Regions from separate parts of the Homo sapiens genome. Here region 2 is linked to region 1. A link means that fine-mapping ties the variant in region 1 to the expression of a gene that starts in the linked region. Tissue or cell type: blood mononuclear cells. Region 1 holds a variant in brackets; the other region holds the start of a gene. All regions are shown on one strand. Distances are from middle to middle. Region 1 overlaps SUCO (SUN domain containing ossification factor). Region 2 holds the start of SUCO (SUN domain containing ossification factor).

Evidence for each region. PIP is the estimated chance that this variant, and not a neighbour inherited with it, causes the effect. A credible set is the group of variants that fine-mapping cannot tell apart.
Region 2: it holds the start of SUCO, and the variant in region 1 is the best candidate, but not a certain one, in a credible set for the expression of SUCO in blood mononuclear cells (TOPMed, PIP 0.76).

The regions. Positions count from the first base shown.
Region 1 is chr1:172,551,920-172,556,316 of GRCh38, forward strand. It overlaps SUCO (SUN domain containing ossification factor), which reads left to right. Exons shown (of 24, transcript NM_014283.5): 3 at 1,341-1,451; 4 at 3,950-4,104. Among named protein-coding and RNA genes, the nearest start is that of SUCO, 21 kb to the left of the region's middle. The variant A/G (reference allele first, on the strand shown) is at 1,832.
Region 2 is chr1:172,530,839-172,535,235 of GRCh38, forward strand. SUCO (SUN domain containing ossification factor) reads left to right here and starts at 2,312. Exons shown (of 24, transcript NM_014283.5): 1 at 2,312-2,659. The coding sequence starts at 2,598. RefSeq lists enhancers at 1,511-1,620, 1,681-1,930, 2,541-2,700 and a silencer at 2,251-2,420.

The DNA of each region.
Region 1 (4,397 bases):
AGTTTTTAAAGAAACCCCAATTTTGCAAATGAGAACTATTAGAAGTGAGTATTCCAGGGAGAATCTACAGTCAGTGGCTTTGTAGTTTGTTTTATGTAATTAGGTGCAGTAAATATAAAGACTCCAAAAAACCTCATGGTCTTAAAACATGTATTATTTTACCATTCTAAATGATAAATGGAGAGTATTGACTTGATTTGGCTTTTGCCTTTAACTTCAGTGTATTTATTTAAAATTACTGAAGTAATTTATATTGGTATAAAATATTTATTATTTATGTCTCATTCCTTTCCCCAAAGGAACAACAGTCTACTATTTCTTGTGAAAACGTTTGGACCTTGTTCTGTGGGTATAGATAACACCTTTATATTTGCCCACAAATTAATATTTTTATTTCCATGAAAATATCATATAAATATATTACAAATTGCCATCCCCCTTCCCCTCCAGTGATAGCTCATATATCATCTTTTCATGTTGATATATTCTGAATGGCTGCATTTTAATCTTGTTATATAGACATTATTTATCAGTTGTTCTTTATTGACAAACTTTTGCATTTTGTTCCCTGCCATGTGTGCACACATGTGGGTGTGTGTATCAACACATACTTACAATTACATACTTGAGGGTTTTTTGGGCATATTTAGAGTGGATTATTTAAATTTAAGTTATGTTGGATATATTTCTGGGATGGAGCATTTAAAATTTTGAAGACTTGCCGCATATCTCAAAAAAAACTATAATTTTATATTTTCACCCACACAGTATATAAGATTTTGATTTAATCCCCCTTTTGATGAAGCATTTTGCAAACAAATGTCATAAAAGTGAATTTAAGCAAAGCATTAAGGGGGAAAGCATGTTCTTTCAGTAAACATTTAGATACCTAGTATGAGCTAGATAGGCTCAGGTAAACAAAGATTGAATATGAACTTTTATGAAAATTACACTCTAGAAGGCATAAAGGTATTAGAAATTCTAACTTGAATGTATGTCAAAAAAGAGATGAAAGAAAGAGCTTTATGTATCTTCATTTGTCAGGTATTCATTGGAGTTTTACTAGGTGCTTACAACGGTGCTGGATGGTAAGACTAAAATGCTTATTAAGAAATCAAATGAAGTTCTTGAACTGGTGTATTGCACATTTTAAATGTTGTAGCAATGAGGGGATTCAAGGAAATAGACAATAATCTTGTATACAAATGAAATTAATTAGAGTCAAATAAACAAGGCAGTTTTTTGGTTTTAAAGTATGGAAAAAAACCATCTTCGTATTGCTTTATAACTGTTTTGTAAAACAGTTTTATCAGGTGATTTTTGTTGTTGTTGTTATATAGGATGAAAGAGAGGGACCTATCAATGCCGAATCATTGGGAAAATCAGGTTCAAATTTACCTATTTCTCCAAAAGAACATAAATTAAAAGATGATTCTATTGTGGATGTACAAGTAAGCTATGTCGCTTTGATTTTCAATAATATGTCATTTCAAACTACTTTACAAGATTGAAAACCTTTGGTCACCATATTGTGTGTGTATTGTTAGTTTTTTCACTTTGAGGTACTCTGTAACTGGACTTAAGATTACTTACCTGCTAATAGTACTACTTTTGAGAACATGTAAAATTACAGATAATAATAAATGTGACTAGTCTCTTGGTAGTAAAAGTTTGAGTATAAATCCTCATTTCTTCCTCGGTTCTATTTTGGTTCATTATGATGTATCTTGTCTCTTCAGATTTTCAGTTGTTAAGAAATTTTTTTCTAACCTGAATCACTTGGAACAAAAGGGAGTATTTTTATGTAGAACACAGAGTATTTTGATAACCA[A/G]GATTTCCACTTATTGTGGGTATGAATAGATAATAGATCAAAATATGTTTTTTCCCTTTTTCTCTCATATTACATTCTGAATATTGTTTATTTTGTGCACCAGACTTTATGAAAAATACTAAAAACTAGAATATATACACCATAAACTGATCAGAATGCTGAGGTATCTGGAAACCATGTAATATCAGTAATGGCTGAAGGTACTGGGGATATTTTATCTGTAGGCAGAAGGACTAAGGAAAAACTAAAATCTCGAATATTAAAAAAAGAACACACATTTCAACTCAGAATGAGGGAGAATTCTTTCTTTTTAAAAAAATACAGCCTTGGCTAATTTTTTTTTCATTTTTTATTTTTTAACCTTGTACTTTTTGCAAGAGCCAGGGCTATTTTATAACTTACTGAGTTATCTAAAGCAATAGAATTAGTTTCATTTTATTGGATTCTGGAAGACATTTGTCAAGGGTTTATGCATAGGAGTAAGAGAAAAATGATACTTGTAGCCCTTACAATTGTATGACTATCCTGAACACTCCTACCGTTATTCATAAAACTTTTATTATGATGTAGTTGTGCTCAAATACTTCCGAGTGCTTACCATGTCTTGTATACCTATGTTGTTCATTACAGTAGCCACTAGCCACATGTGGCCATTAAGCACTTGAAATGCGGCTAGTCCAAATTGAAATTTACTGTAAGTGTAAAATACACATTGGATTTTGAAGACTTAATTAAAAAATAGCATGTAGGCCGGGCACAGTGGATCACCTGAGGTCAGGAGTTCGAGACCAGCCTGGCCAACATGGTGAAACCCTGTCTCTACCAAAAATACAAAAATTAGCCAGGTGTGGTGGTGCACGCCTATAGTCTCAGCTACTCAGGAGGCTGAGGCAGGAGAATTGCTTGAACCCAGGAGGCGGAGGTTGCAGTGAGCCGAGATCATGCCACTGCACTCCAGCCTGGGGCAACAGAGTGAGACTCTGTCTCAAAAAAAAAAAAAAAAGCATGTAAAGTATCTCATTAATTTTTAAATTTTGAATACATGTTCATATGGTAATATAGTATTTGATAATAAGGCAGTAGTCATTTTCTCAAGGCCTCCATCATAAAAATGCAGATGACTATTTATATTTTTTTGTGAATTTCTCGGTGTAAATAATTCCCCAAATGATCATACTTTATATTCTCCGGACTGCGTGCCTCGATGTTTGTTTGTGCTCTTGTACTGGCCCTCCTTTTCTTTAATGCCTAGCTCTTCTAATTCATCATAGTCCTTAGTTTCTTTTTCCTTGAGCTGAACATGAGTACCTCTCACTTGATATTCATTTATTGAGCATTTAAACACCTACTGTGCGCTAGATACTGTGCTAGACACTGGGAATATGAGGATCAAGAGAACATAGTTCTTACTGAGGACATTTATGGTATAGTTGAAGAAGAGAGGGAGACATGAATAATGGCAATTGAGTTGTTATAGATGCAGTGATAAAAGTGTACAGAGAACACTGGAGGCATAGGGGAAAGGGAGTAGTTAATTCTGTTTAGGGTTGATCTTGGAGGAGGAGGTGCTGATAGAGGTTTTCAAATATGAACAGGTGTTAGGTAGATTTCACATTGTGTTTTGGAGGACTGAAAGGCCCAGGTCATTCAAGACTGAAGGAGCAGTAAGAATCATTTATTGCTTCATGGTGTTACTTGAACATATCTTATATCGTTGCTTATTGATACACATTATTTCCTAAACTGCTCAGGGTCAAGAACTATGTATTGTACTGTTTTGTACATGTCCATAGGGTTTCTTTGTTGCTACTATCATTCATCAATTAGAGAAGAGGGAAATCTCTGTAGGTCCTGATGCAAAGTAGGAAATAGGTAGGGAGAAAGTGCTTTCCTAGTTTATGAAATGCCATGAAAAATGCTTAGGGCCTGTATTTTCATATGAAATGCATTCCTTAGGGCGGTAATATTGGAAGAAAGGATTTTTATAAAAGTACTTTTTTTAGTGAACATTGTTTATATTGTCATTTTTCAGAAATGCTTTCCATAAATGCCCGTTCTGCTAAAGAGATGTTATATTAATCTCAACATTTAATTTAGCTGACTTGTTTTTTTAAACAGAATACAGAGTCAAAAAAGTTAAGTCCACCGGTGGTGGAGACACTCCCTACAGTTGATTTGCATGAAGAGTCTTCCAATGCAGTTGTGGACAGTGAAACTGTTGAAAATATTTCCAGCTCATCTACCTCAGAAATCACTCCAATCTCAAAGCTTGAGTAAGTTGTTACAAAAAACAAACACAAAAAAGAATCTCCTTAGTTAGTGATAGAAAAATTTCCTTAAAAGATAAAGCAGCTTGATACTCAAGTTTGAAGTTTAGGCTATATAGCAGACCTAAATTACAGTGCTTGTGTTTTGTGTGCGTATGTGTGCATGCGTTTGTGTGTTTTGAATGTAATGATTTTATAACAAGTTTATTTAGCTAACTAACTCAATGAAGCTGATAGATCCCAGATATGAAATCTCTATATAGTCTGAGCAAAGTAAGGTTCTACTTAGGAAACAGTGC
Region 2 (4,397 bases), 21 kb before region 1:
TTGTAAGAAAATTTTCTCTGTTCTTTTTCTCATTATATTTAACAGATATGTGGAAAAATGTCTACCAGTTCTTTAAAGGTCAGCTCTATGGAACTTCTATTTATTTCATCTGAAGTCTTAGAATAGGAAAGAATCAACACAAATATAGAAAGTCACGTGAAGAAGCTAATTTATGGGGAAAATGAGTTCAATTTTGTGCAGGTAAAATTGGAAGTGATAGAATAATATGTCCAGCAACTACTTGAAAAGAGGATGGGATATAGGTTTAGGAGTCAACAGTATAGTTGAAAATTAAAATTGCTCAAGAGAAAAATGGAAAAAGCTCGGAGTAGTGAAGGATTAAACCTTAACATGAAACCATGGAAATGAAGCTGCAAAAAGAGAAAAGAACATTTATAGATTGAAATAGTAAAAGCTAATAATTGGATGATAATTAGGTGAATGGAAAGCCTACCACGGGGGTATTAATAAAGCTCCAACTGCAGGAGAAGGAAGGAAGGAAGGGAGGAAGGCAGGCAGGCAGTCAAGGAAGGAATGAAAGAGAAAGAAAAAAGTAAAATTATTTGTACTTGCATGTTTCAAAAAATCATTGCAGGGACTTGGTGGAAAATAAGTGGATGGGTTTGTGAGTTTGGGATGAGAGGGTTAGGAGATGTAACTTGATAACTTCCTAGATTTGAGATAAGCACGTATTCTAATATAACTTCTTTGGCTGTGATGCACTGAGGATCAGCTGAGGGATACCTCAGCTGTTTCCTATCCTGAATAAAAGTTCCTGGAGTAAGAGGAAAAGAGTGTCCAACATGGTAAAGAATGTCAATTTATCCCTACCCTTTCATTGCCCCTACTTTCTTTTAAACTTGCATATTAATCATTTGATACTGTTTTTGGGTGAGATAAATACTTGCTTCCCGCAATAGGTGACAGATGAAAGGATTTTATTGTCATATACTAAGAGTGGCATCAGCAGATAAGTGGAACTGTACCTAATTACTGCCAGAAAAGGCAGTTCAGGGTGAACTCCTTTAAAACAAAAATTATCACCCTTTGTATAATTTCTCTAACATCAAATTGACTTATATCCAAGAATCACAGAGCGGATCAAATCATTCAGTTCTTTGGGACTATAATTAACATCCAATTCAACTTAGAAGGTTCATAAGGAAATTCCGCGGCTCAAAATTAGGCGTTAGGTGGGCATTTTACTGAGGGTTTTTTCCCTACGGCCACATGAACAATAAGTAACCCGTCCTTTAAACATTTTTCACACTAAACATTATGCCATGTTCCAAGGCACAGACCATTGCAGCCTCCGTCCCCTCAGCGGCGTAAACACTTGGAATGGGCATGCTGCCCCGTTACTTAGTATTGAGAAGTGGTCACTTTTTGCTCTTCTTAGGTGAGTGTAAGCGACTGCCTTCCCCACTTTAGGTGAACCCCAGGACTTGGAGCGTCTGTGGGTGCTCCTCTAATGGGGACAACTCCTCCCTTCCGACTCCATCGCAGAGAACCCAAAGTTCGAAACCAACAGAACGAAAAGCAACGAAGCACACTTAAAGTGAGGAACCCGGCAAGCGGCGAAATTCTTGCTGAAGAGAAGAAAAAGCGAAAGGTTTTCCGCTGCAACCAATCAGATGAGAGGATTCTTGGCACGCCCCTTTCTATCTACCAATCAACATCTAGCTCAATGGGGCAGTCCATTGCCACAGGGAAAGGGCTTGGTGCAGCTTCCCTCACAACACACACGTCATTCTAGGCCATTCCACGAACTGTGCTCAAAAGAGGAAAACAGTGCAACAGTTCCAAAGCTGATCAGTCTCGTGGTGAGCAGCGAAACTATAGACTTCTCTAACAAAACCATGGATTCTAGGAGGGACTGGGAAAGAGAAAAACGAATTCTGGAAGGCAAACTACAACTCCCAAAGGCCCTTGCGCGGACTCAGCGCGCGAGGGACGAAGGGCGGTCCACTGTAAGGGGAAATGCTGAGGATCACTGGGCTCCTCCCGGCTTTCTGAACGCAAGCCAGCAAGTGGGCGGGACCTGGGGCGGGCGGAGCGGCGAGAGCATCTGCTCCTGCGCTTTGTGGTCTCCTGCCTCCGGCTTCTCCGCCTGCGACGTCGAAGGGGGCGTGGCCTGCGCAGAGGCTGGTGGGGGTGCGGGCGCCGCGGGACTTGGGTGACGCGTCCCTTTCCAGCTCAGCGGTGTGTGAGGTGTCGCGGCCCCGCCGGCGATTGGCTGTTGAGAGGCGAGTACGCGGCGGCCGTTGGTCGCTGGCCTCACGGAGCAAGGCCCCCGGCGGGCGGGGAGGATATGGGGCGGCAGTGGCGGCTGCAGGAGGCGGGCGTGGACGAGCCGGTGGCTGCAGCGGCGGCGGTCCCCGGAGTCCTGTGAAGCGCCCCTGTCCGCGCCTCTGTGGGGCCCTCAGAGAGGGCTGCCAGGACGCGAGCCACTGAGGAGCCGCTCAGCCAGCGCCATAGCCCTTAGGACTATCGGTCACATTCTCGCGCTCCTGCTCCGGCTCCTCCATCTTGGCCTCGGCAGTGGCGGCTGCCGGGAGGATGTGCCGCCTTCTGGCAGGGGGAAGAAGGAGGAGAAGATGAAGAAGCACCGGCGGGCCTTGGCCCTGGTCTCCTGCCTCTTTCTGTGCTCTCTGGTCTGGTGAGTAGCCGCGACGACAAGGGAGTTCCCGTGAGGGGAGTAAATGGGAGGGAGCAGCCCAGGTCACACCCCCTGGTCATTTTGGCTTTTAGGGTCCGGGTTTCCAAGGCCCCCGTGGAAGGGACAAACCGATTACTTCTCGACTCTCCATCTGACTGGTCTGGTAGTGCTCTGTGCGGAGATTTTCATGGTGTATTTTGGAATTTACAGAGACTCAGTGGGAGAGAGAGAGGTGCCAAGGTAGAGGGAACCACCAAGTGCCTTTGTACTCAGTTCCTCTACCCCTTGGAGACGGTGCAGGGTTTGGGGTGGGTGTTCAGATTGATGGTAAGTAAGTTGCTCCGATTTGCCGCCAGTCTTTGCGTTCTTAGTGTGGTAAGGGGATAAAGCACGTCGGATGTGATGCGTTCCGGACGTGCGATTTTAAAACGTGAGTGGTCATGAAGGTAAGAGTAATGTATAAGCAGTAGTTCTCCTGGACATTTCTCGCACAGCGTTTGATCCCAAGTACACTCGGGCCGCTGTTTTTGGAAACTTGGGGGGCGTGTGTGTATGTGTGTTATGAAGCACTTTTTCAATTGGTTTGGTGGAGAGGGTGTCTTAGATGTAGTGTGTGTAGTAGTTTTTGGTAATGCCCCTTAGTGACGGGAAGGTAAATGCTGTATTTTCAAGGCGGGAAGAGTGCTTTGTCCCTAAAGCACTCCTTAAGTTTTACGGAGTTTCTGTTAATCCCAGGCACTTCTGGAGTTTTTTGAGGAGCAGAGAAAGCTTGTAAGTCGAGGGACTGCTGTCACCGTACTTGGAAAAGCCATTCTTTCCTCCCAGGGAATTTCTTCAAAGATGTGTGACAATTGATGACTGAAAAGATGCTTCTTCAGTCTAGGCGATTTGCTGTTTGTTATATTAAAATAGAAATTAAGTTTCCTGTTTTGCTTATTTCTGCAAAGCACCAACACTATTTTCATTTTTATGGATGCCTTATGGATTCCAGAAGCACTGAAATTGTAGAGTTGTTGCTCACATAAAATAATACATAAACAAGGGGAAGAGAAAACACTCGCCTGGCTGAGGGATTTTTATTGGAAGAATGATAGAAGTTTTTGAGAACAAAAACAATTGACTTATTACCTTTCATTCTGAATCCTTTTAATACCCGTCTCCTGTTTTTAATAAAATCCTCCCCTTTCTACTTACTGTGTTGGGTACGGAGAAGTGCCTGTAAGAGATAAATCCACTCACCTCATTTTAAATTTAAATTTGTAGATACTGAAGCTTGTATTCATTTCCATCTCTTTCTGGGGCTGCCTAGTTATATTTGTAGACTGTGTATTTTCTTTCCTCTTTCTTCTTGGTCTTGCCCATCTTTAAACCATGTTATTCATCATCAAAAGTTTCTGAAATGGCTAATAAGGAAAAGGTGAACACTTTCATTCAAGTTTAAAAACACACCAGTATCTCTGGCTTTTTTTAATTTTTTAATTGGATGGTGTAAACGAAATCAAGCAATAGAATGTGATTCTTACAATCATTTGTAAATTTAAGTTAACTCTGCTTCTATTTCTTTTGGGAATTTCTGGCTATCTTTTGATTAAGCTAACCCTCAGTATGTTTTCTCACCTTCAATCATTAGCTCTAGTGAAGAGCTAATGAATTTCCCTGTTAGGGAACAAATCGGTTGGCCTGGTATTGAAAGTAGTAGTAATAAACTTCTGTCAAGTTTTTTAACTCCTAGTGAGGA